Homo sapiens: one gene and its partners. The gene in region 1 interacts genetically with each later gene. Each region holds a gene or a part of one and is shown in the gene's direction. Other genes may lie near its edges.

What was found.
Region 2: changes in YTHDC1 (region 1) and AFG3L2 together harm fitness less than expected from each alone (positive genetic interaction), as found in Homo sapiens cells (one large-scale study listed by BioGRID).
Region 3: changes in YTHDC1 (region 1) and TAF1 together harm fitness less than expected from each alone (positive genetic interaction), as found in Homo sapiens cells (one large-scale study listed by BioGRID).
Region 4: changes in YTHDC1 (region 1) and SAP18 together harm fitness more than expected from each alone (negative genetic interaction), as found in Homo sapiens cells (one large-scale study listed by BioGRID).
Region 5: changes in YTHDC1 (region 1) and NFYC together harm fitness less than expected from each alone (positive genetic interaction), as found in Homo sapiens cells (one large-scale study listed by BioGRID).
Region 6: changes in YTHDC1 (region 1) and EIF3D together harm fitness less than expected from each alone (positive genetic interaction), as found in Homo sapiens cells (one large-scale study listed by BioGRID).
Region 7: changes in YTHDC1 (region 1) and MCM3AP together harm fitness more than expected from each alone (negative genetic interaction), as found in Homo sapiens cells (one large-scale study listed by BioGRID).

What each region holds. Positions count from the first base shown.
Region 1 is NC_000004.12:68,343,591-68,347,090, reverse strand, and holds part of YTHDC1 (YTH domain-containing protein 1), read left to right. Parts: intron 1-3,500. UniProt on the Homo sapiens protein: Regulator of alternative splicing that specifically recognizes and binds N6-methyladenosine (m6A)-containing RNAs.
Region 2 is NC_000018.10:12,353,228-12,356,727, reverse strand, and holds part of AFG3L2 (mitochondrial inner membrane m-AAA protease component AFG3L2), read left to right. Parts: coding exon 1-34; intron 35-3,500. UniProt on the Homo sapiens protein: Catalytic component of the m-AAA protease, a protease that plays a key role in proteostasis of inner mitochondrial membrane proteins, and which is essential for axonal and neuron development.
Region 3 is NC_000023.11:71,383,357-71,386,856, forward strand, and holds part of TAF1 (transcription initiation factor TFIID subunit 1), read left to right. Parts: intron 1-605; coding exon 606-779; intron 780-1,588; coding exon 1,589-1,693; intron 1,694-3,500. UniProt on the Homo sapiens protein: The TFIID basal transcription factor complex plays a major role in the initiation of RNA polymerase II (Pol II)-dependent transcription.
Region 4 is NC_000013.11:21,143,119-21,146,357, forward strand, and holds part of SAP18 (histone deacetylase complex subunit SAP18), read left to right. Parts: intron 1-1,973; coding exon of another isoform or gene 1,974-2,166; intron 2,167-3,239. UniProt on the Homo sapiens protein: Component of the SIN3-repressing complex. Enhances the ability of SIN3-HDAC1-mediated transcriptional repression. When tethered to the promoter, it can direct the formation of a repressive complex to core histone proteins.
Region 5 is NC_000001.11:40,698,204-40,701,703, forward strand, and holds part of NFYC (nuclear transcription factor Y subunit gamma), read left to right. Parts: intron 1-3,500. UniProt on the Homo sapiens protein: Component of the sequence-specific heterotrimeric transcription factor (NF-Y) which specifically recognizes a 5'-CCAAT-3' box motif found in the promoters of its target genes.
Region 6 is NC_000022.11:36,512,167-36,515,666, reverse strand, and holds part of EIF3D (eukaryotic translation initiation factor 3 subunit D), read left to right. Parts: intron 1-3,064; coding exon 3,065-3,207; intron 3,208-3,500. UniProt on the Homo sapiens protein: mRNA cap-binding component of the eukaryotic translation initiation factor 3 (eIF-3) complex, a complex required for several steps in the initiation of protein synthesis of a specialized repertoire of mRNAs.
Region 7 is NC_000021.9:46,237,623-46,240,611, reverse strand, and holds part of MCM3AP (germinal-center associated nuclear protein), read left to right. Parts: intron 1-2,989.

The sequences.
Region 1 (3,500 bases):
GTGTTTCAGTACCTTGAGTATTTACCAGGTTGGACTTCATTGACTGACTGGTTAAATGACATGTGCAGTATGATAACGAAAGCTAAGAGTTTCTCAGTTTAAGTTATACAACAGTTCTCCCCTGACCCCCAACCTCTACCAGCCTTATTTTCCTGGTAAATACGTTCTAAGATCCACAGTGGATACCTGAAACAATGGATATTACTATATCCTATCTATACTATGTTTTTTTCTATATGTATATACCTATGATGAAGTTTAATTTATAAGTCAGGGACTGTAAGAGATCAACCACAACAATAATAAAGTAGAACAGTCATTACAGTATGCCATCATCACTACTCTTGTGCTTTGGGGCTATTATTAAGTAAAATAAGAGTTACTTTGAACACTGACACTGCCATATGTGGACAGTTGATCTACTACCCGAGACAGTTACTAAATGACTAATGGCAGGTAACATATGCAATGCAAATATTTGTTGACCAAAGGGATGATTCATTTTCCAGGCAGGACAGAGTGGGACAGTGCGTAATTTCATCACACTACTTAGCGCACAATTTAAAACTTATGAATTATTTCTGGAATTCTCCATTTTTATATCTTTGGACAGTGATTGACTCAGTTGACTGGGGGTAACAAACCCTCAAAAGCAAAACCTTGGATAAGTGAGGGACTACTGTATATATACACACAGTTGTTTTCAGACGGCTTCTGTCGCCTAGGCTGGAGTGCAGTGGAGCAGTCACGGCTCACTGCATCCCCAACCTCCCAAGGGCTCCCTAGTAGCTGGGACTACAGGTGTGTGCCACCATGCCCAGCTAATTTTTTATTTTTAGTAGAGACGAGGTCTTCCTATGTTGCCCAGGATTGTCTTGAACTCCCGGGCTTAAGCAGTCTGCCTGCCTTAGCCTCCCAAAGTGCTGGAATTACAGGTGTGAGCCACCGTGCCCAGCCGTTATACAGACGGTTACATGCAGGTGTGTGTGTATATATATATATATATATATATGTACACACACAGTCATGTGCACACACATGCACACAGTCACGTGCACACAAACACAGTCGTGTCATTTAACAATGAAGATGGGCATTGTTAGGCGGTTTTGTTGTGTTATCATAGTGTGTTTACACAAACTTAGGTGGCATAACCTACTACATATCTAGGCTGTATGGTATAGTCTATTGTCCCTAGGCAACAGATCTGTTGGGCGTGCTACTGTAGGCAGTAGTAACACAATGGGAAATATTTGTGTATCTGAACATCAAAATGATGACTGTGCCACAACATTTGTATATACTATGTGTATATACTATGGCCCTCACTATAGTAATTTCTTAGGATAAAATTGCCTGTCTTGGTTCACTTTAGTTTGGGCTCTGTAAGGCATAGAGTACATATTGATACTCCAATATATTTATTTTACCTATAGTATAAGTAAGGTAGAAAATTTAAAATGATATCTTTGCACTTAAATTGTATGTTTTTATAAGAGCGGTTTTGGATGGGAAATCCAAGTTTTTAAACTTCATTTGGAGGAATGACGATTTTCAATGACAAAAACTGAGAAACTGGTCTAAATGTACAACGTACATTACAAGACAATAGAAGGGGGAGGTTCTAGTAATCTTGCTCCATTGCCAAGTCCCACTAAAATTATATTAAATGAATTAAAATATAATTTATTTTGGTACCTTGTGTTAGAAAACAAAATGTGTAGTATATTTAGTATTTAACTTTCCTTAAATACTAAATCTTAGTCTGATGCTGGAACCTCACATGTTAATAAATAGCACTGTCTTCTGACCCAGAAGCTTCTGCAGTAAAAAATGACTGTCCCAGATAAAGGTTAATTTTCTACCCTGATATCCCTAGAGTTAAAGTTTGTGACCTTCCTGGCCAAGAATGTAAAGATTATGGTAAATTTTAAGTTCCCATGTTTACCTAAAACAAAAATCCCCCAGCCAAGCAACAAACAGCTAGCTTTGTTATTTCTAACATCTTGTCAGTTTTTGAACAGGCCTTAAAAATAATGATTTTTTTTGTTGTTGGCGGGGAGACAGGGTCTTACTCTGTTGCCCAGGCTGAAGTGCAGTAGTGCGATCAGGGCTCACTGCAGCCGCGACCTCCCAGACTCTGGTGATTCTCCCACTTCAGCTTCCTAAGTAGCTGAGACTACAGGTGCGGTGCACACCACTAATTTTTGTGTTTTTTGTAGAGATGGGGTTTCATCATGTTGCCCAAGCAGATTTCAAGCTCCTGAGCTCAAGCTATATGCCTGCTTTGGCCTCCCAAAATGCTGGGATTACAAGTGTGAACCACCATGCCCGACCTGTTACTCTTTTTATATCCTTGTTTACTTCCTGTATCCTGGGAATCTGTACCTTTACCTCAAAACTCATTTTGCTATTAGTTTGTGTATAATATTAATACAAAACATTCACACGTGATTATACTTTCACGGAGGAATCTAGCAGCCAACTGTGGAATCTATCAGCCAGCTGTTTCATTTTTAATTGAGGCAGCACTGAAGAGTCATGCAATTCCAAATAAAAATCTGGGTTTCAGAGTCCTCTTGAAAATGTGGAAGATCTGACAACACAGTGCTTGCAACTGTCAAGGAAGTTAATCTTCTGGAGTTGAGTAGGATTGTCCCCTTTAGCTTTCCTCCTCTTTCCCAAAGTATTATATACGGTATACTAAAACTAGTTTGATGTTCCTGTGCCTTAGTGTATTAAACTGAGCCTTGGGTTTTTTCAAGTTTAAGATCAGTGTTATGCAGGGGTTGCAGATGTGTGTGCATGCCAGAATCTGGCAGATAAAGATAAAGTACTTGCTTAATACGTTAGGTATCATGAGTTTGTTTTTTTTTTTTTTTAAGAGCCAGCATGCTCTTTGTTCAGGTAGTAATACTGATTCACCAGATACAAACTCATTCACCAGATACAAACCCAGATTGTCTCATGCAAAACTTTGACATATGTTACCTTCTCTGTGTCTTAACAGAAGACTAGACTCTTCCAGCTGGTTGTTTTCAGGTGAGAATCTGGGCCCCTAATAATCAAATAGTATTTTTTTAAGTGGGTTTTCATATTAAATCCTTAGAATTTTTAAAAACAGCATTCAAGAGCTGAGTTTATCCTCTAGACTGCTAGTGTAAAACTTTTAGATAGATTTGAATTTTAGCTCTAAATGTAAATACTGTTTAATGTAGGATTGTTTCATTAAGCTTATTTCTTGAACTGGCACATTATAAAAAAATCCATCTTTTTGTGACATCTTAATTTTGGAACAAAATTTTATAGATTTTAACCTGAGGTCAGGAGTTCAAGACCAGCATGGCCAACATGGCAAAACCACTTCTCTACTAAAAATATAAAAATTTAGCTCGGCGTGGTGGCAGGTGCCTGTAATCCCAGCTACTTGGGAGGCTGAGGCAGGGAGAATTGCTTGAACCTCAGAGGCGGAGGTTGCAGTGAGTTGAGATCATGTCACT
Region 2 (3,500 bases), on another chromosome or scaffold:
TTTGGAGATGTTCGTTGGTGTGGGCCCTGCTAGAGTGAGTCTCATTCTGTTCGGATGGTACAGCTTCCTTGCACCCACCACTTCACCACAGATGGAGGCACTTGCTAGAGATGGCCCTTCCCCCTAGAGTGCTAGAGTGACCTCTCACCAGTCCCTGGCCTGAGCTCTCCTCCAGGCCTAAGACTTCAGCAAGGCCTGTGACTTCCACCCCACCTTCCCTCGCACCAGCTAGGACTGCAGTCTGCTACCTATAGTAGACCAATTTAAAGAATTGACGGCTGGGCGCGGTGGCTCATGCCTGTAATTCCAGCACTTTGGAAGGCTGAAGTGGGTGGAACGCTTGAAGTCAGGAGTTCGAGACCAGCCTGGCCAACATGGCGAAACCCTGTCTGTACTAAAAATAGAAAAATTAGCCAGGCGTGGTCGCGCATGCCTATAATCCCAGCTATTTCGGAGGCTGAGGCAGGAGAATCTCTTGAACCCAGGCGGCAGAAGTTGCAGTGAACCAAGATGACACCACTGCATTCCAGCCTGGGCAACAGAGTGAGACGCTGTCTCAAAAAAAAAAAAAAAATTTTGCTTTATTTGTGGATTTTTTTTTTTTTTGGTGACAACATTTATTGAGATATAATTGACATACCAAACAATTGATCCCTGTAAAGTATACAGTTCAGTAGCTTTTAGTAATTCACAGATTTGTGCAACCATCACCACAATCAGTTTTACAACATTTCCATTACATCAAGAAGAAATCGTGGCCGGGCGTGGTGGCTCACACTTGATATCCCAGCACTTTGGGAGGCCAAGGCAGGCGGATCAGGAGGTCTGGAGATCGAGACCATCCTGGCTAACATGGTGAAACACCATCTCTACTAAAAAAACAAAACCAAAATTAGCCATGCGTGGTGGCGGGCGCCTGTAGTCCCAGCTACTTGGGAGGCTGAGGCAGGAGAATGGCGTGAACCTGGGAGGCAGAGCTTGCAGTGAGCTGAGATCACGCCACTGCACTCCAGCTTGGGTGACAGAGTGAGACTCGTCTCAAAAAAAAAAAAAATATGTAAATCGGGAGTCCTAAGCAAACTACCCAAAGGAATTTCCTAGTACAGACATTCCATGTAAATGAAATTATACAATATGTGGTTTTTTTATGCCTGATTTCTTTCACTTAACATGTTTTTGAATGGTAACTCCATGTTTAACATTTTAAGGAACCACCAGACTGTTTTCCAAACTACTTGCCCATTTTCCATCCCTACCAGCAATGTGTAAGGGGTTCTGATGTTTCCCCGCCCTTACCAACACTTTGATGATAGCCACCTTAGTGGGTGTGATGTAGTATCTCGTGGTTTTGATTTGCATTTCCATGATGAGGAGTGATGTTGAACATCTTGTATATGCTTATTGGCCATTTGTATATTTGTATATCTTCCTTGGAGAGTTGTCTATTCAGATCCTTTGCTCATTTTTTAATTGGGTTTTTTTGGTTGTTGAATTGTAAGAGTTCTTTTTTTTTTTTTTTAATTTTTTTTGAGATGGAGTCTTGCTCTGTCGCCCAGGCTGGAGTGCAGCGGCATAACCTCTGCCTCCCGGGTTCAAGTGATTCTGCCTCAGCCTCCCTAGTAGCTGGGATTGCAGGCACCCACCACCATGCCCAGCTAATTTTTGTATTTTTAGTAGAGATGGGGTTTCACTATGTTGGCCAGGCTGGTATTGAACTCCTCACTTCAGGTGATGCACCCCCTGCCTTGCCCTCCTAAAGTGCTGGGATTACAGGCGTGAGCCACCTTGTCCGGCCTCACCTTCACATCTATTTCACACTTTGCTGTTGTTGTGCAGATAAGTCATAGAAAAATAGGGAATGAGGGGGAGTTGGGTGTTAATGATGATGGGCCATGAGATATAAAGTGGATGGGGGGAAATTGAAGACAGGAGAGGAGCTGTGGGGGGTGGTGGGGAAGGGTGGGCCTGGTGGGTTGCAGAGCTGAGAAGTGGTAAAGAGTTGGCGTGAGATACCTGAGTGTGTCTGTGGGTCCAGATGATAGGAGGGGGTGCTCAGAGAGTAGATGACTTGAAGATGGTGGTTTAAAAGGCAACCTTGGCAGTGCTGGTCTTGTCAGAGTGAAGTAAAAGGTGAATGAAGGGGTGGTCAGGGAACTGAGAGACCGAGAGCCACATGGATGGAAATCACTGAGGACATCATGCCTAGTGGCAGTCAGGCTGGGGGAGACCCATGGCACAGTGGGGTGGAGTGCCTGCCACAAGGCCTGAGCCTCAGCAAGCAGGGGCTTTTCCAGCAGTTATTTTGGCAGCAGCAGTGGGGTGTGAGGTGGACCCCAGCTCCAGTTAGCCTGTAGGGGAAGATGCAGACTCCTGCTTAAGGCTTGCTGGAATGGCTGAGTTCCTGTTCATGCCGGGATGGGATGGATGTACTATGAAGGTGTGGGTCTGTAGGTCACAGATCTGGAATTCAGAGGGGAGGCTGGAGAAGGATACCAGTTATTTTAGGGGATGTGTTCAGAGCAGTGTAGGAATGAACATCCAGAAATCCAGGCAGGAAGACCTGGACTTCTGTCCAGTGAAGTGGGGGGGGGGGGGTGGGAGTGGGCAGGTGGAGAGTTGTCTCTGATTCTCCTTGAAGGGGCAGGTGACTGATGGTGAGGTGCTGAGTGGCTCTTCCTCCTCTTCCTGACTGCAGGTTTGTCTGAGGGTATGTGCTATCAGGATGGTCTGTGGTGGGGTGGGTGGCAGACGAAGGCTGTCACCCCCTCTTTGGGGATGAGCTGATGGGCTTGGATGGTCTTTGGCTTCACTGTATATGTGTGATTGCATAGACTCCTTAGTAGCCTCAGCTTGTTAATAACTGTGTTAGGCATGAAATGTGAACTCTAGAGAAGTCTGAACTTTTCAACTGAATGTAAAGTTTACAGCTCTACTGTGTTGTCTTTGTTTAGGTATATATGTAATGTTAATTTGTTGATGTTACAAAAATAGCAGATATTATCAGTGTTTATTACATATACAGTAATTTATGGGATCTGAGAAAGATTTGCTCACCTTAAGTCGGTTACCCAGGTTACTCCTCATTTGCTGCTGCTTTGCTACTTGTAACTCTTTTAAAAAATGTACCTTACAGTGTGTATCACAAAAAGATTGTCTGCACATGGGACGGGAAGCTGAAGATTTATTTCATTTTTTTTTTTTTTTTTTTTTTTTGAGACAGAATTTCGCTCTTGTTGCCCAGGCAGGAGTGCAATGGCTCAGTCTCAGCTCACTGCAACCTCTGCCTCCCAGGTTCAAGCGATTCTCCTGCCTCAGCCTCCTGAGTAGCTGGGATCACAGGCACGCGCCACCATGCCTGCCTAATTTTGTATTTTTAGTAGAGATGGGGTTTCTCCATGTTGGTCAGGCTGGTCTCGAACTCCTGACCTCAGGTGATCCACCAGCCTCGGCCTCCCACAGTGCTGGGATTACAGGCATGAGCCACTGTGCCCGGCCGATTT
Region 3 (3,500 bases), on another chromosome or scaffold:
GAATGACTGCATCTTTCAAAAACTGTCCAGCAAAGTCTATAGAAAGATAAAAGTTTAAAAAAATGGCGAAATATAAACAGCGACGTGGGATAATAAGTGTTCATAGTACAGTCGTCCTTCGTTATCTCTGGGAGATTGGTTCTAGGACCTTCTCTGGATACCAAAATCTTTAGATGTTCCAGTTTCTGATAAAATAGCATAATATTTGCACATAACCTATGCACATCCTCTCCTATAGTTTAAATCACCTCTAGATTACTTATAATACCTACTCCAATGTAAATGCTATGTGAATAGTTGTTAACACTGTTATTGGTTAGGGAATAATGACAAGAAAAGTCTGTACCTGTTCAGCACAGATGCACTTGTATTTTCTGAATATTTTCTATCTATGGTTGGTTGAAATCACGGATGCAGAACCCATACATGGATATGGAGGGCCGACTGTACTATTCTTTGAACTTTACAGTATGTTTGAAAATTTTGATTATGAAATTGGAAAATAGGTAAAATGTTTTTGGTGTGTTTGTCTCAGATTGAACAACGTCATTGTGTGTAGTAGTGTCCTGTCAGGAGCTAGATGGTATTTTCTTTGTTCTGGACAGATGAGAGAACAAGAGAGGCAAGCTTCAGGTGGTGGAGAGATGTTTTTTATGCGCACACCTCAGGACCTCACAGGCAAAGATGGTGATCTTATTCTTGCAGAATATAGTGAGGAAAATGGACCCTTAATGATGCAGGTTGGCATGGCAACCAAGATAAAGAACTATTATAAACGGGTGAGTCTCTGCTCAGAAAATTTTTTTCCCATACATAATTCTGCTTATGCTTCCATAAACTTTTATGTACAAACTTTTTGTTATTAACATAGCTGTAGTGAGACAAACTGCAAACTTACATACAAATTTTTTATTATTAACGTAGCTGTAGTTAGAGATCTACTGGTAATCTGTGAACATATACCATAAATTTCTTGGGAGAAAGGAGTGGTACCTTTTTTTGTAGTTATAACATGTTGAGCATCTCAAATCTCAAAATTCGAAATCAAAATCCAAAACTTTTTTTTTTTTTTTGAGACTGAATCTTGCTCTTTTGCCAGGCTGGAGTGCAGTGGCATGATCTCCACTCACTGCAACCTCCACCTCCTGGGTTTGGGCAATTCTTCTGCCTCAGCCTCCTGAGTAGCTGGACTACAGGCGTGTGCCACCACACCCAGCTAATTTTTGTATTTTTAGTAGAGACAGGGTTTCATCATGTTGGCCAGGATGGTCTCGATCTCTTAACCTCGTGATCTGCCCGTCTTGGCCTTCCAAAGTGCTGAGATACAGGTATGAGCCACCATGCCCGGCCAATCCTAAACTTTTTGAGCACTATGATGATACTCAAATGCTCATTGGAGCATTTTGGATTTCCAGATTTGGGATGCCCAACTGGTAAGTATAATGCAACTATTCCAAAATCCGAAACACTTCTGGTCACAAGCATTTTGGATGAGGGATACTCAACCTGTATTAGTAAAGTGCTATGGTCATATTGTGTAGGATTATTGATATATTCTAAATAACTGGGTCTTCTGTGTTCCTTATAGAAACCTGGAAAAGATCCTGGAGCACCAGATTGTAAATATGGGGAAACTGTTTACTGCCATACATCTCCTTTCCTGGGTTCTCTCCATCCTGGCCAATTGCTGCAAGTGAGGAATTCTTTCCTGTTTTTACTGTTAACTAAGGAAATTGATAAATGAGGAACCAGTCAGCTCAGAAAGAACTATTATAATTCTAGTTGATTGAGATGCTTTAATTTTAAGTACAAAGAAAATAAGTATAATCCAAAAATGTTTTAAAGAAATCTTTTTCTTAAAACTGGCTGTGAATTGTGTTATTCTCAGGCTAAATGTAAAATAGGTTTTTAAAAATACACACTGGTAAGCTCAGTAACATCTGGGAAGCATAAGGAAGTCAACCTAGGATGAATTTACTATAAATTTACTATAATTTATGAATATTTAATTTTTGTGTATAAAATTGATAACATTTTGATCACATTAGCTGTGGTTATTGTGAATATTGAACCACACCTGAACTGTGCCATCTACAGTCCCCAGCCATAGTGAAATGCTTTTTTTTTCCCTCCTTTGTTCTAATGGGTGTAAAGAGGCTCTCTTATAACAGCTTTTATATATTCAAGGGGGGAAGTATGATGGTCCACAAATGATGTGGAAAATCTCTAGCACTCTCCCATCTTGTTTTTTTTCTCCATTTCATTTCTCTTGGCAATCTTAACCATTTGTCCTACTCTTATACCTAGTTTATTCTACTGTTGTTGTTGTTTATTCTCCTAAAGCATCTGCAAAGCTCAGTTTTTTTCTTTATCCTTTACATTCATAGTCTATTGCTAACCGGATGTTTAGTATCATCTTTGTATTGTTCTTCTCCTTTCCCTGGAACTTTCTGTTGAGGTTTTCTACCAATTCAGCCTCTTCTTTTGTGGCTACTTTTGTAGTCTCTTAAAGATCTTTTTCTGGCCGAGCGTGGTGGCTCACGCCTGTTAATCCCAGCACTTTGGGAGGCCGAGGTGGGCGAATCACCTGAGGTCAGGAGTTCGAGACCAGTCTGACCAACATGGAGAAACTCTGCCTCTACTCAAAATACAAAATTAGCCGGGCATGGTGGCACATGCCTGTAATCCCAGCTACTCGGGAGGCCGAGGCAGGAGAATCACTTGAACCCGGGAGGTGGAGGTTGCAGTGAGCCGAGATCGCGCCATTGCACTCCAGCCTGGGCAACAAGAGCGAAACTCCATCTCAAAAAAAAAAAAAAAAGATCTTTTTCTGTATTCTTCTGTAATTCTTTTTCTGCCTATATTTCACATGTAGAATTTTCTTTCCACACTCAGTGATGGTCTTCCCTCTTTCTGTCTACTCTTCTGATTTTCGGGGAAGGCTTTCCTTAGACTCAGGCTTCTTGTGACAGTTTATCCCTATCTTGCCTCTACTTAAACTGGCTCAAATGTTTCTGTTCAGCTGTCCTCTGTCCTACTGTCTTGTGTTTTCCTTTTGTTTTTTCCCAGCCTATTCTGTCTAGCACTCTTTCTACCTCATTGGTTGTTTTATGATTTATTTGTTTGGAGATAGGGTCTGGCTCTGTGACCCAGGCTGGAGTGCAGTGGCACGATCTTGGCTCACTGCAACTTCTGCCTCCTGGGCTCAAGCCATCCTCCTACCTCAGCCTCCCAAGTAGATGGGACAATAGGCGCACGCCACCACATCCAGCTAATTATTGTATTTTCTGTAGAGATGGGGTTTTGTCATGTTGCCGAGGCTGGTCTTGAACTCCTGAGGTAAAGTGATCTACCTGCCTCGGCTTCCCAAAGTGCTGAGATTACAGGCATGAGTCACTGTGCCCGGCGTTGTTTTGTTTTTTAATTAGTTTAATAATTTATTCAACAAATGTTGCTCTCACACGTTGTGTGTTGGGCTACACTGGGGTCTAGGGTAGTAG
Region 4 (3,239 bases), on another chromosome or scaffold:
TGATGGACACTTGGGTTGTTTCACCTTTTTTGCCATTGTGAATAATGCTGCTGTGAACATTGGCATACAAATGTGTTTGTGTCGCTGCTTTCAGTTCTTTTGGGTATGTACCTAGGAGGGGATTACTGGGTCATATGTTAACTTTGTTTAATTTTTGAGGAACCACCAAACTTTTTCACAGCAGCTGCACTATTTTATATTCCCCAAAAGATGTATAATTTTAAACTATTTAAGCCCTGTACACTAGAGCTAATCCCTTGAAGATTGGGACCTTACTTGTCTTATTTGGAGGTGCTTGTTAAATTTATGTAGTAGTATGATACCTGTACTTAAGCATCACTCAAGGGTAAGTGTTCTAGGAAGGTTGATTTAGCTTATATGGAAGAACTGTTGAATAATGGCTTGATGAAAATCTCTTCAGAAATTAAAGTGTATGTTTCTTCCAACAAGAGTTCCTATTTGCCAGGTGCTGTGTGTGCTTAGATCCTGAGGGTATAAAGTCAAGACGGTACTGCTCCTCCCTGTAGTAAGTCCTTTTATCAGGGAAAGCGGATGAATAGAGTGATTTTTAGGGTTAAAATGGCAGGGTGAGGTTGTTCCACAGACCTTCCACTCTGAATCAAGAAAAAAAATTACCAAAAAAATCCTGTCCTAAACTATACCGTCCATAAATTGCAACCAAACAAAGAAGGAACAACTTTAAGTTACATCTCAAAATGGTGGCCAAAGAAAAGATTCTGAAAGACTGGATGATTGGTATGGGGGTAACACAAAGGCCTGCCCTCATTCCCAGAAATAGTAATGAGGGAAAATTAGTTAACATATACTGGAAATTCTCAATTTGGAGAAGTAGACTGTGGGGTTAAATAGGCAGTCCCAAGAGAAGTTATGGAAACAGGAGTGGAAGTCCAGAGGAGCCCAGTAGAGGCAGGCTGTGTTCACCAAAGTCAATCAGGGCTCAGCCAGAAAAACAGAATTGGGAGAGATGTGTTAAGAGATTTATTTCTGCTGGGCGTGGTGGCTCACGCCTGTAATCCCAGCACTTTGGGAGGCCGAGGTGGGCGGGTCATGAGGTCAGGAGTTGGAGACCAGCCTGGCCAACATGGTGAAACCCCGTCTCTGCTAAAAATACAAAAATTAGCCAGGCATGGTGGCGGGTGCCTGTAATCCCAACTACTTGGGAGGCTGAGGCAGGAGAATTGCTTGAACCCAGGTGGCAGAGGTTGCAGTGAGCCGAGATCAGCGCCACTGCACTCCAGCCCGGGCGACAGAGCGGGACTCCATCTCAAAAAAAAAAAAAAAAAAAAAAAAAAGCTTTATTGCAAAGAATTTGGTTTACGTGATTGTGGGGGCTGTCTAGGCCCTTAATTGTCAAATCTGTAGGGCAGGTTCTCAGGAAGGAAAGGCTGCTCTTAGGGCCTTTCAACTAATAGAATCAGGCCTCCCCAGATTATATAGGATAGACCTCTGAATTTAAGGTCAATTGGTTGTTGACTTTAGTCACATCTATAAAATATCTCACAGCAATACCTAGGTTAGTGTTTGGTTGAATATCTGGGGACTGTAGCTTCGTCAAGCTGACACAAGTACTGAACCCCACCCTGTCCTCAAGCTTCTGACTAGTGATGAAAAAGCAACACTTGGCACTCCAATTGTTGGTCTGGAAAGACAGTCCTTAGAAGGTGGGAAGCTTGTGTAGGTTTCACACTGTCAGAACTGATAAAAGGTGTGATATAAATCCCCCAAATTAATTAAGAGCAAGACAATATTGAAAATATTTTTAGAAAGGAAAAAATTCTTTCTGGTATATATCATCATAAGTATGTACTGTGTATCAGAATATAGACTGAGCATCGCAAGTCCAAAATCTGAAATGCCACAAAATCTGAAACTTTTGAGAGCTGACGTGACACCGGTGGAAAATTGCACACATAAGTTCTTGACCTCTTTTTTTTTTTTTTTTTTTGAGACAGAGTCTTGCTCTGTCATCCAGGCTGGAGTGCAGTGGCGCGATCTCGGCTCACTGCAACCTCTGCCTCCCAGGTATAAGCGATTCTCCTGCCTCAGCCTCCTGAGTAGCTGGGATTACAGGCGTGCACCAAACTTCCTTTCATGCACACAATTACTTAAAATGATGTATAAAATTGTATTCCAGCTGTGTATAAGGTATGTTTGAAACATAAATGAGTTTCTTATTTAAACTTGGGTCACAACCCCAAGATATCTTACGTATATGCAAAAATTCTAAAATTTGAAAAAACCTAAAACGCTTCTAGTCCCATGTATTTTGGGTAAGGGATACTGAACCTATAATTGATACAGAATAGTTAACATCAAAATATCAGGTTGAAAAAAGGTCACCTCTGAGACAGATAAACCAATGTGACCTCAGGTTTTTTTGTTTTTGAGACAGAGTCTCAGTCTGTCACCCAGGCTGGAGCACAGTGGCACAGTCTTGGCTCACTGCAGCCTCCGCCTCCCAGGTCAAGCGATTCTCTTGTCTCAGCCTCTCGAGTAGCTGGGATTATAGGCTACAGATGTGTGCCACAACGCCTGGCTAATTTTTGGATTTTTAGTAGAAACGGGGTTTCACCATGTTGGCCAGGCTGCTCTCGAACTTGAGCTCCTGGCCTCAGGTGATCCACCCGCCTTGGCCTCCCAAAGTGCTGGGATTACAGGCATGAGCCTCCGCACCTGGCAAAAAAATGTATACTAGGTTATTTCTAAGATGCTTATATGTTAAAATATTTTTTTCAGATTGTTCTCTTATTAGCTCAGGGGACTATATGAAAGTTGGATTCAAGTCAATATTTGCAGGGTAAGAAACTATTGTGACAAGAGCCTGTGCTTCATTGTAAGAAACTTTTGTATATTTCATTGGCTCTAGTACTCTTATCTGTTGTAAAACTTACAATTCTATCTAAGAAAGAAGAAACACATCTGGCTGGGCGCAGTGGCTCACGCTTGTAATCAATCCCAGCACTTTGGGAGGCCAAGATAGGTGGATCACTTGAAGTCAGGAGTTCGAGACCAGCATGGCCAACATGGTGAAACCCTGTCTCTACTAAAAATAGAAAAATTACCTGGGCGTGGTGGTGGGCGTCTGTAATCCCAGCTACTCAGGAGGCTGAGGCAGGAGAATTGCTTGAACCTGGGAGGCGGAGGTTGCAGTGAGCTGAGGTCACGCCACTGCACTCTAGCCTGGGCGACAGAGCGAGACTCTCTCAAAAACAAAACGT
Region 5 (3,500 bases), on another chromosome or scaffold:
AATACAAAAATTAGCCAGGCATGGTGGCAGGCACCTGTAGTCCCAGCTACTCAGGAGGCTGAGGCAGGAGAATCGCTCGAACCCAGAGGCGGAGGCTGCAGTGAGCTGAGATCATGCCCCTGCACTCCAGCCTGGGTGACAGAACGGGATTCCCTCTTTGAAAAAAAAAAAAAAATTCACGTTCAAGGTACTATATATAAGGTGTCCTATTTAAATGAATGCCATTCATTCATTTATTTATTTGCTGGAGTCTTGCTCTGTCGCCCAGGCTGGAGTGCAGTGACATGACCTCGGCTCACTGCAACCTCTGCCTTTTGGGTTCAGACGATTCTCCTGCCTCAGCCTCCTGAGTAGCTTGGGACTACAGGTGCGTGCCACCACACCTGGCTAATTTTTGTATATTTTGTAGAGACAGGGTCTCATCTTGTTGGCCAGGCTGGTCACGAACTGCTGACCTCAGGTGATCTGCCTGCCTCAGCCTCCACTGCGCCCAGCCTGAATACCCTTCATTTAAAGCCAATAGTATATCCTTTGCCTCCCGGGTTCAAGTGTTAAAGTCAATTGTATATTCTTAATAAGATTCAATAATTGTCCTATTCTTAAATACATTCATGAGTATGAACCATAAATAGTGATCTTGAGCAGTGTTTCAAAGTGTTTTAATAAGAGGAATGAGATGGGCCGGGCGCCGTGGCTCACACCTGTAATCCCAGCACTTTGGGAGGCTGAGGCGGGCAGATCATGAGGTCAGGAGTTTAAGACCAGCCTGGCCAACATGGTGAAATCCCATCTCTACTAAAGATACAAAAAATTAGCTGGGCGTGGTGGTGGGCCTCTGTAACCCCAGCTACTCGGGAGGCTGAGGCAGGAGAATCGCTTGAATCCGGGAGGCAGAGGTTGCAGTGAGCCGAGATCGCGCCTCTATTGCACTCCAGCCTTGACGACAGGGTGAGACTGTCTCCAAAAAAAAACAAAACAAAACCAAAAAAGGAATGAGATGACTCATAGGAAATGATGTTAGAGTATAGAATATTTTGTATCATGTCATTGGCTTAAATCTGAAGTACTGAAGGTTTTCACAATCCCAAATTACTGTTGCCCTTGGCCTCCAGAGCTGTAAACTGTCCAGTAATCTCTATGAAGTTGAGATTCTTTGCCCAGTGTTAAGAAGATATATCCCTTTGACACTGGCATGATCTGTTCCTTTTAAAAGAGAAGAGAGAAGGGGCTAATAAAGTACACATTATCTGCACAGTTGACATCCTTGTCATTTTAAACTGTTTTAAAAATTATTACTGTACCCTGAAAGTAAGTAGCATAGAATTTGCTCATTATGAAATGACGAAGTTGGGGCCTTTTAAGAAGCCAAGAATGCTTGGTTGGCAATCACTTAGGAGGCAAAGGATTGCTATTTATGGTGGTATTTAATGTCATTTTCAGTAGTACTAAGTTAGAAAGGAAAACGCCATAATGTGTGTAAAACTCTAACCATTTTGGAAGGTTATCAGAATACAGTTGCCTATAGTCTTTTCACTCCACTAAAATTTGTAAGTTGGTTTAGAGTAGCATTTCCCAAGCTCTTCCACTGAACATTAGTTCTGTGTAGTGCTAATCAGTGTCCTTTGGGGATAAAAAGAGGATCCTTGACAAAAAATGGCCAAAGTGAAATGCCTTTCTTTACTGCAGAATTATTATTCAGAGCCTTGGTGCTTATTTGCCTATGACCCTTCAAGAGGGAAGATACATTACGCGGTGTTACTCAGACTTACTTGGTCATGGACCGCTGTTTGTGAGAACACCTAATAAACGTTTCATGCTATGACTGGTGTGTAGTGGAGCCCAGTTGAGCAGTTCTGGTGTAGTCTATGAATAAAAAAATGAATCATTTTGTATAAGATAGCTTGGTAATCGTGGGAAAGGACTTTTCTGAGAACAAGATACATCTTCAAGGTAACGTAGACTCTTAAGGATGAATGTGATTTCAAAGGTCATCTAATCCAATGCCCAATAACAATAATAATAGTAGCAGGTACCATTTTTTGAGTACATGCTTTTTATCAAGCACAGTGTTGTTATTCTACATGCCTTATTAACCACTGGGTCTTAGTGATTTTTGAATCTTCTTTATTTTTTATTTTACTTTAATTAATTTTTTTGAGATGGGGTCTCACTTTCTTGCCCACGCTGGAGTGAGGTGGTGTGATCATAGCTCAATGCAACCTCAAACTTCTGGGTTCAAGTCATCCTCTTGCCTCAGCTTCCTGAGTAGCTGGGACTACAGGGATGTAGTACCATGCCTGCCCAGCTAATTTTTTTATTGTTAGTAGTGAGGAGGTCTTGCTATGTTGTCCAGGCTAGTCCCAAATTCTTCAGTTCAAGTGATCCTCCCACCTTGGCCTCCCAGAGTGTTGGGATTACAGGTGTAAGCTACCGTACCTGGCTTATTTTTTATTTTTTGAGATGGAGTCTCACTCTATGAGGTTCAAGGCTGGTCTTGAATTCAAAAAAATTTGTTTTATTTTTTAATTTTTAATAAACTAATAAATGGACGTTAAGGAGATGACAAATTCTGAATTATTTGCTTTGTTGTCCAGGCTGGTCTTGAACTCAGTGTCTTCACTACTGCATCCAGTCACCAGATAACTTTAGCATCCTGTTTTCCACGTTAGTGGTCTAGAGTGCTGCCATCCTCCCACTGTGTCCCCTTCTCCAGCTTATTCTCCACACTGTACCCAATGGTAAGGAACTAAACAGTCTTAAACATGGGGCTGGGAAAATCAGAATTACACTTTAAACGTGGGACTGATTGTGCCAGTCCAATGTTTAAGACGCATTAGTTCCTTATCATTGTCCTTAGAATAAAGTTTTAGTATATTAGCTTTGTCCAACCCTGTATACCTTTCTTTTTTTTGAGAGAGAGTCTCGCCCTGTCACCCAGGCTGGAGTGCATTGGTGCAATCTTGGCTCACTGCAACCTCTGCCTCCTGGGTACAAGGGATTCTCCTGCCTCCAAGGGATTCTCCTGCCTCAGCCTCCTGAGTAGCTGGGATTACAGGTGCCTGCCACCATGCCTGGCTAATTTTTGTATTTTAGTAGAGATGGGGTTTCACCACGTTGGCCAGGCTGGTCTCAAACTCCTGACTTCAGTTGGCCTCCCAAAGTGCTGGGATTAAAGGCATGAGCCACTGCGCCCGGCCTACCTTTCTAACTCTACTTCTAGCTTCTTGCTTCTGGGCTGCTGCTATACCAAACAGGAATGTAATACTTTCTGTCAGCTTCAGGCCTTTGCACATGCAGTTCACTTTGTCTATCTTGGTTTTTATTCTTAGGATTTTAATTCTCCTAAGAAGCTTTCTCTGACCAGCCTAAAACTTACGTAAGCCCTGGGTTAGGTGCTATGCTTATGTCCTCCCATAGCATTTTGCATTTGCATGTGTTGTAACTCTTAATGTACAGCATCATGATTGCCTATTTTAACTTTCCTGTTTGTTACAGTAGAC
Region 6 (3,500 bases), on another chromosome or scaffold:
ACAGCTCTCTTCGCCATACATACTTCTGTATTATATAACTTTGTATTAGTTTTCTTTCGCACCATAACAAATTAACAGAAACTTAATGACTTAATACCGATTTATGTATTTTACTTTTATTTTTTATTTTATTTTTCTGAAACGGAGTTTCGCTCTTGTTGCCCAGGCTGGAGTGCAACGGTGCGATCTCGGCTCACTGCAACCTCTACCTCCCGGGCTCAAGCGATTCTCCTGCCTCAGCCTCCCGAGTAGCTAGGATTATAGGCATGCACCACCACACCCAGCTAATTTTGTATTTTTAGTAGAGATGGGGTTTCTCCATGTTGGTCAGACTGGTCTTGAAGTCCCGGCCTCAGGTGATCTGCCTGCCTCGGCCTCCCAAAGTGCTGGGATTACAGGCGTGAGCCACAGCACCCGGCCTAACAATACCAATTTATTAGCTCACGGTTTTGTAGGTTAGAAGTCCAGTGCTGTGTGCTTGGTCCTTGTATTAGTCCATTGTCACACTGCTGTAAAGAAATGCCTGAGAGTGGGTGATTTATAAAGAAAAGAGGTTTAATTGGCTCACAGTTCTGCAGGCTCTAGAGGAAGCGTGGCTGAGGAGACCTCAGGAAACTTGCAATGGTGGCAGAAAGCAAAGGAGAAGCAGGCACATCATGGCCAGAGCAGGAGAAAGAGAGGGGGGAGGTTGGTATACACTTTTAAACAACCAGATCTCTTGAATACTCTTACCACAAGAATAGTGCCAAAGGGGGAAGTCTGCCCCCATGATCCAGTCACCTCCCACCATGCTCCTCCTCCAACATTGGAGTTTACAATTTGACATGCAGTTTGGGTGGGGCCACAAATCCAAACAAGGCAGAAATCATGGTGTCAATAGAAATAGAACTGAGTTCTCATCTGGAGGTTCTGAAAGAAAAGCCACTTCCAAGCCCATTCTTATTGTGGGTAAAGTTCATTTCCCTGCAGTTAGATGACTGAGGCCCCCATCCCCCTGCCAGTTGTCAGCTGGGAGCCTCTCTTGGCTCCTAGAGGCCACCTGCATTCCTTGTCACATGGCCCCCTCCATCTCCAAGATAGCAACAGCACATCAGATCCTTCTTGTGCTTCAGATCTCTGACTTCCTCCGTCTCCGACCTCTACACCTAGATTTAAGAGACTCATACGGTTGGGTGAGCCCAGCCAGGTAGTGTATATTAAGGTAAACTGATTTGCGGCCTTACATCTGCAAAATCCCTTTTGACATACAAGGTAGGATGATCATGGGGGTGATACTTGATCCTAGCCATAGGTTCTGCCCGTAGTCAAGGGGAGGAGACTCTGCAAGGGCAAGGGTCACTGGGGGTCATCTTAGAATTCTGCCCATCCCAGGCCTCAACCATGAACTCTTTGAAAATGATTTCTCAAATCTACTCTGATTTATTATACTTCCCATTGTTTTTCTGCTAAAACACCTTCCCCTTCCATGTGTCCCCAGTCCCGTCATTGCCTCTGGGCCAGCTGTCCATCAGCATTGTCTTTCTTCCACCTAAGCTCTGAGCCTCCAACATCTCCAACTTCTTTTTTACATTATTCTGTTTTGCTGTTAGCAAAATAGAAGGCTTTGCTGTCTTCTGAATCTGTCCTGGATTTCACTGATAATTGCCCTAGTTCAGGGCCCCATTTCATCATGCCTGTTTGACATTTGTCTCCTAACTGATTTCTCTACCTCCACCCAACTTCTATATTTGATTTATCTCCGCCAGTCAATTGTCCAATACACGCTTCATCAGCAGTGCAGATTGGGAGAAGAATTCTAACATGCCCCAGCAAGCTGTATGCAGTAGTATGCACCTATAGTCCTAGCTACTCAGGAGCCTGAGGTGGGAGAATCGCTTGGGTTCATGAGTTCAAATCCTGAACTCACCAGCTTGGGCAACATAGTGAGACCCCATCTCCAAAAAATGTGCCACAGCAAACTCACAGGAGTGCTGCAGGATATTTTAAATTTTTTAGGGAAACACAGAGACATCTTGTCAGAATACTAATACATGGTTTGACCCTAACTAAATAAAAGGAATTCTTGGCCGGGCACGGTGGCTCACGCCTGTAATCCCAGCACTTTGGGAGGCCGGGGCGAGTGGATCACCTGAGGTCAGGAGTTCGAGACCAGCCTGGCCAACATGATGAAACCCCGTATCTACCAAAAATACAAAAATTGGCTGGACATGGTGGCGGGCACCTGTAATCCCAACTACTAGGGAGGCTGAGGTAGGAGAATCACTTGAACCCGGGAGGCGGAGGTTGCAGTGAGCCAAGATCGTGCCACTGCACTCCACCCTGGGCAACAAGAGCAAAACTCCGTCTCAAAAAAAAAAAGAAAAAAAATTTAAAAGAAATTCTTGAGTATTTCTTTTGCCCTGTGTTTGCCATGAACCAAGAAAGTTTGGGAACCTCTGTCATGTGACCTTTGACCAGTCATTTCACTCTGGGTCCAACTTCCCACGTCTACAAATGATATGGGTAGAAAAGAGGATCTCTCTGGGGTCCTTTTCTACTGTGTGTGCATTTATGTAAAATGTCAGACTCAGCTTTGCACCCACTGCAGGCTTCCACCCCCATCTAAGGCCAACTCTGCCTGTCTTTCCTATCCCACCATGCCTCTCAGATCAAGACCTCCTGGCTACACCTGCACTTGAGCCAATATTCTCCACTTGGCTCACTGTTACACGTCCTCTGTGAAGCCCTTCCTTACCACGCAACACATAGTAAACACTTGGCTCTGCTGTTTATATGACACTTCTAAAGTGTGTGTGTGTGTGTGTGTGTCCGTGTGTGTCCATCCATCATTCCCTGTCTAGGCGAGCTTTTAGAAGAGAGGAATTGTAAGTCGTTGAGTGACTGCTGTGCGGCAGGCTGTGCAAGGGAAGGGACTATGTCTTTGTCTCTTAAATGGTAAGATTTAGTGCGTACCTACCCACTTTCTAAGCAAGCAGACTAGGGAGTTCCTTCTCTGCCAGAGGAGGTCCCAGCACCTTGGGCATTTGGAGCTTGCTTCTGTTTCTCTAACGGGGCTCTCCTGCAGCACTGTAATGGCGTTGACTGGCGTCAGAAGCTGGACTCTCAGCGAGGGGCTGTCATTGCCACGGAGCTGAAGAACAACAGCTACAAGTTGGCCCGGTGGACCTGCTGTGCTTTGCTGGCTGGATCTGAGTACCTCAAGCTTGGGTGAGATTCCTGTGCAGGAGCTGGCAGCTGATCTTGTGAAAGGAAGGGTCTGGGTAGGGAGGTTGACCCTCCCCTCCCCGTGTACTGGACAATTGACTGGCAGAGATAAATCCAGGGGTGGGGTAGAGATGGAGGGGTCAGTTAGGAGACAAATGCCAAACAGCAGGCATGCTGAATGGAGTCCTGAACTAGGGCAATGGTGTCAATGAAATCCAGAACTGAGAACTCAGAAGACGATGTTTTCCCTTTCCCTTGAAAATAGCAGTGGACTGCCGGGCGCGGTGGCTCATGCC
Region 7 (2,989 bases), on another chromosome or scaffold:
TATATTGAAGTGAATTTCATTTATTATTTATTATTGAAAGTCAGTGTTAAGTTTTTCTGGGAAATTCATGTGGTTAAGTCTGCTCAGAAGATGGTGAGTGCTGAACACTATGGCTGGCCACAGGCACCCTGCCCTTGGGAGCCTGAGGCATTGGTGGATCATCCCATGCTGTGAATGGACAGGAGCTGGGGCTGCCCCTCCTCTACATTGCCCACTTCCCTCCCTCCCATGCATACCTTTCCTTTGCTTTCATTTGATGGCCATGTTTACCATTTTACTGAGTAGAATCAGGAATAAGGGACCTTCCACAGGTTGTCCTCTGCCTTCCCTGCCCTCCCAGCCACATCCAGCATCCTCCCTATATCCCCTTCCTGACGCCTCTTGTTGCTGGAAACGAACCATGCAGCTCGTAGTCAGTCAGCCCTTCCCTGGGCTGGGATCTCATCTCCCACCTACCCAAGGACATTCATTCAATGAGTATCTCTCTCGTGCTACCACCCCTCCCCATATTAGGTGGTGCCCATCAGCAGCACACAGACATGAAACATGCCTCCCTGTCTTGGTCCCACTTCCCTCTTTAGCCACCACTTCATGTTTCTGCCCTCTTAATGGTAAAACTCCTCAAAAACGCTTGTGATACTCACTTCTTCAGCCTTCTTTCCCATGGGGATGAAGGCCCAGGGTTGAACATGACCGTGAATCCCAGTCCTTGGTAGCATCCCATACTTGATCCTCCCCTCCTTGCTCCTAGGATGTCCGTGGTCCCCCTCCTGCCCTGCTGGTTCCTCCTCATCCCCCAGCTGCCCCCTGGATTCATTCTCTCAACCTCTCCTCTGCATCGTCTGTACCTACTCCTCAGAAATTTCATCCAGTTTCATGGATTTTTAAGTAACATCACTATTCTGACAGCTCCAAATTTGTATCTCAAACCTCTGAACTCCACACTTGAACATGCTACTGCTTCCTTGAAATCTTCATTAGACACCTATTGGATGTCTGGTAGCCACTGCAAAGTTAACATATCCCAAATCCAGTTCCCGGCTTTCTTCCAACCAACCCCTTCCTTTGGTGGTCATCTCTGTTGATGGCGGCTCCATCCTTCCAGCTGCCTAGATCAGGTGCCTTGGAATCATCCCCTCACATCAGCCCATTCACATATCCTATTGGCTCTATTGAAAATACATTCAGAATTGGACCACTTGTTATGACTTCCATGGCCACCACGTGGCTCAAGCCACTATCATCTTCCTTCTGGATTATTACAGTAGGCTGCAGTTTAGTCTTGGTAGACCTGGTGGGTGCCTTTCAAGTGAGTTAAGATGGAGGTCGTGTCACTTGCTTGCTTACAGCCTCTCAGTGGTTTCCCTCTTTCACCTGCAATCAAAGGCAAACTTTGCAGGGGTGGCCAGGGCCCTGAGTGATCTGCCCCCCATTTCCTCTCTGACCTCCGCTCCTTCCTTGAGCATGGTAGGCAGTTCACAGTTGGGCCTCTGAGTTTGCTGTTCCTTTTGCCTAGGACTGTCCAGCCCCTCCATTCTCCCCAGCATCCCCATGGCTGATCTTGTACTCACTTCAGATCTCTACTCAAATGTCTGCTTCTGTTAGGCCCTGCTTGCCCATCTCCGACCTTCTTGTTTCCATGGCTCTGCTTTGTCTTTCTCATCTTCAAACCATGTTTCTCTTGTTATGTGTTCCTTGTCTGTCTCTCCTCACTAAAGTATAAATTGCTTAGGGCAGGGCCTCTGTTTTGTTTCAGTGCAATATTCCTTGTACCTAGAATGATGCCTAGCATCTGGAGGAGGCTTAATGAATATGTTTTGGAAGGGTGAATGAATGTGTCCGATTACTAAAATCAGTCTCTATAATTTAAGTGGTTTGGGATGAGATTTTTTTTTCCTTTTTATTAGATAGAGTCTCGCTCTGTTGCCCAGGCTAGAGTGCAGTGGCACAATCTCGACTCACTGCAACCTCCACCTCCCAGGTTCAAGCAGTTCTCCTGCCCCAGCCTCCCAAGTAGCTGGGACTACAGGTACCCATCACCATGCCTGGCTGATTTTTGTATTTTTAGTAGAGACGCAGTTTCACCATGTTGGCCAGGCTGGTCTTGAACTCCTGACCTCAGGTGATCCACCTGCCTTGGCCTCCCAAAGTGCTGGGATTACAGGCATGAGCCACTGCACCTGGCCAAGATTGTTTTTCTTGAAAAGACCGGTATATGGAAGTAGACAGCTCTAGAGTATGTTAGGTGGCAGTGGGATATTATTTTGAGTTAATTTTAAGCTATAAGCAGCAATCCACTCATTTGGAAAATGTCAGAAGAATTAATTATAGATGCATAAAACCAAAGTAAATTAAATAAGATAAGCCAAACAAGACAATTACAAGTAATGTTAAGTAACACATCGAAGCAGTTGTTTTTGGATTAATACCACCTTTTTCATTAAATATAAATTGGAATTGGATTTATAAATTAAAGGGAAGTGGTTTCTCTAATTTTTTTTTTTTTTTTTTTGAGATGGAGTTTTGCTCTTGTTGCCCTGGCTGGAGTGCAATGGCGTGATCTGGCTCACTGCAACCTCCGCCTCCCGGGTTCAGGCAGTTCTCCTGCCTCAGCCTCCCAAGTAGCTGGGATTACAGGCACGTGTCACCATGCCTGGCTAATTTTTGTATTTTTAGTAGAGACGGGGTTTCACCATGTTGATCAGGCTGATCTTGAACTCCTGACCTCAGGTGATCTGCCCGCCTCGGCCTCCCAAAGTGTTGGGATTACAGGCATGAGCCACCGAGCCCAGCCTAGTTTTTTTTTTTAAATTAAGCTTTATCATAGGAAGTTGTTAAATTTTTAATAAGTACATTTCTGCTTCTCAGTTGATGTCATAACTTAGTTATATTCTTAGTAAAAAGCAAAGGCTTAAGGCTGGGTGTGGTGACTCATGCCTATAATCCCAGCACTTTGGGAGGCTGAGGTGTGCACATCACTTGAGTTCAG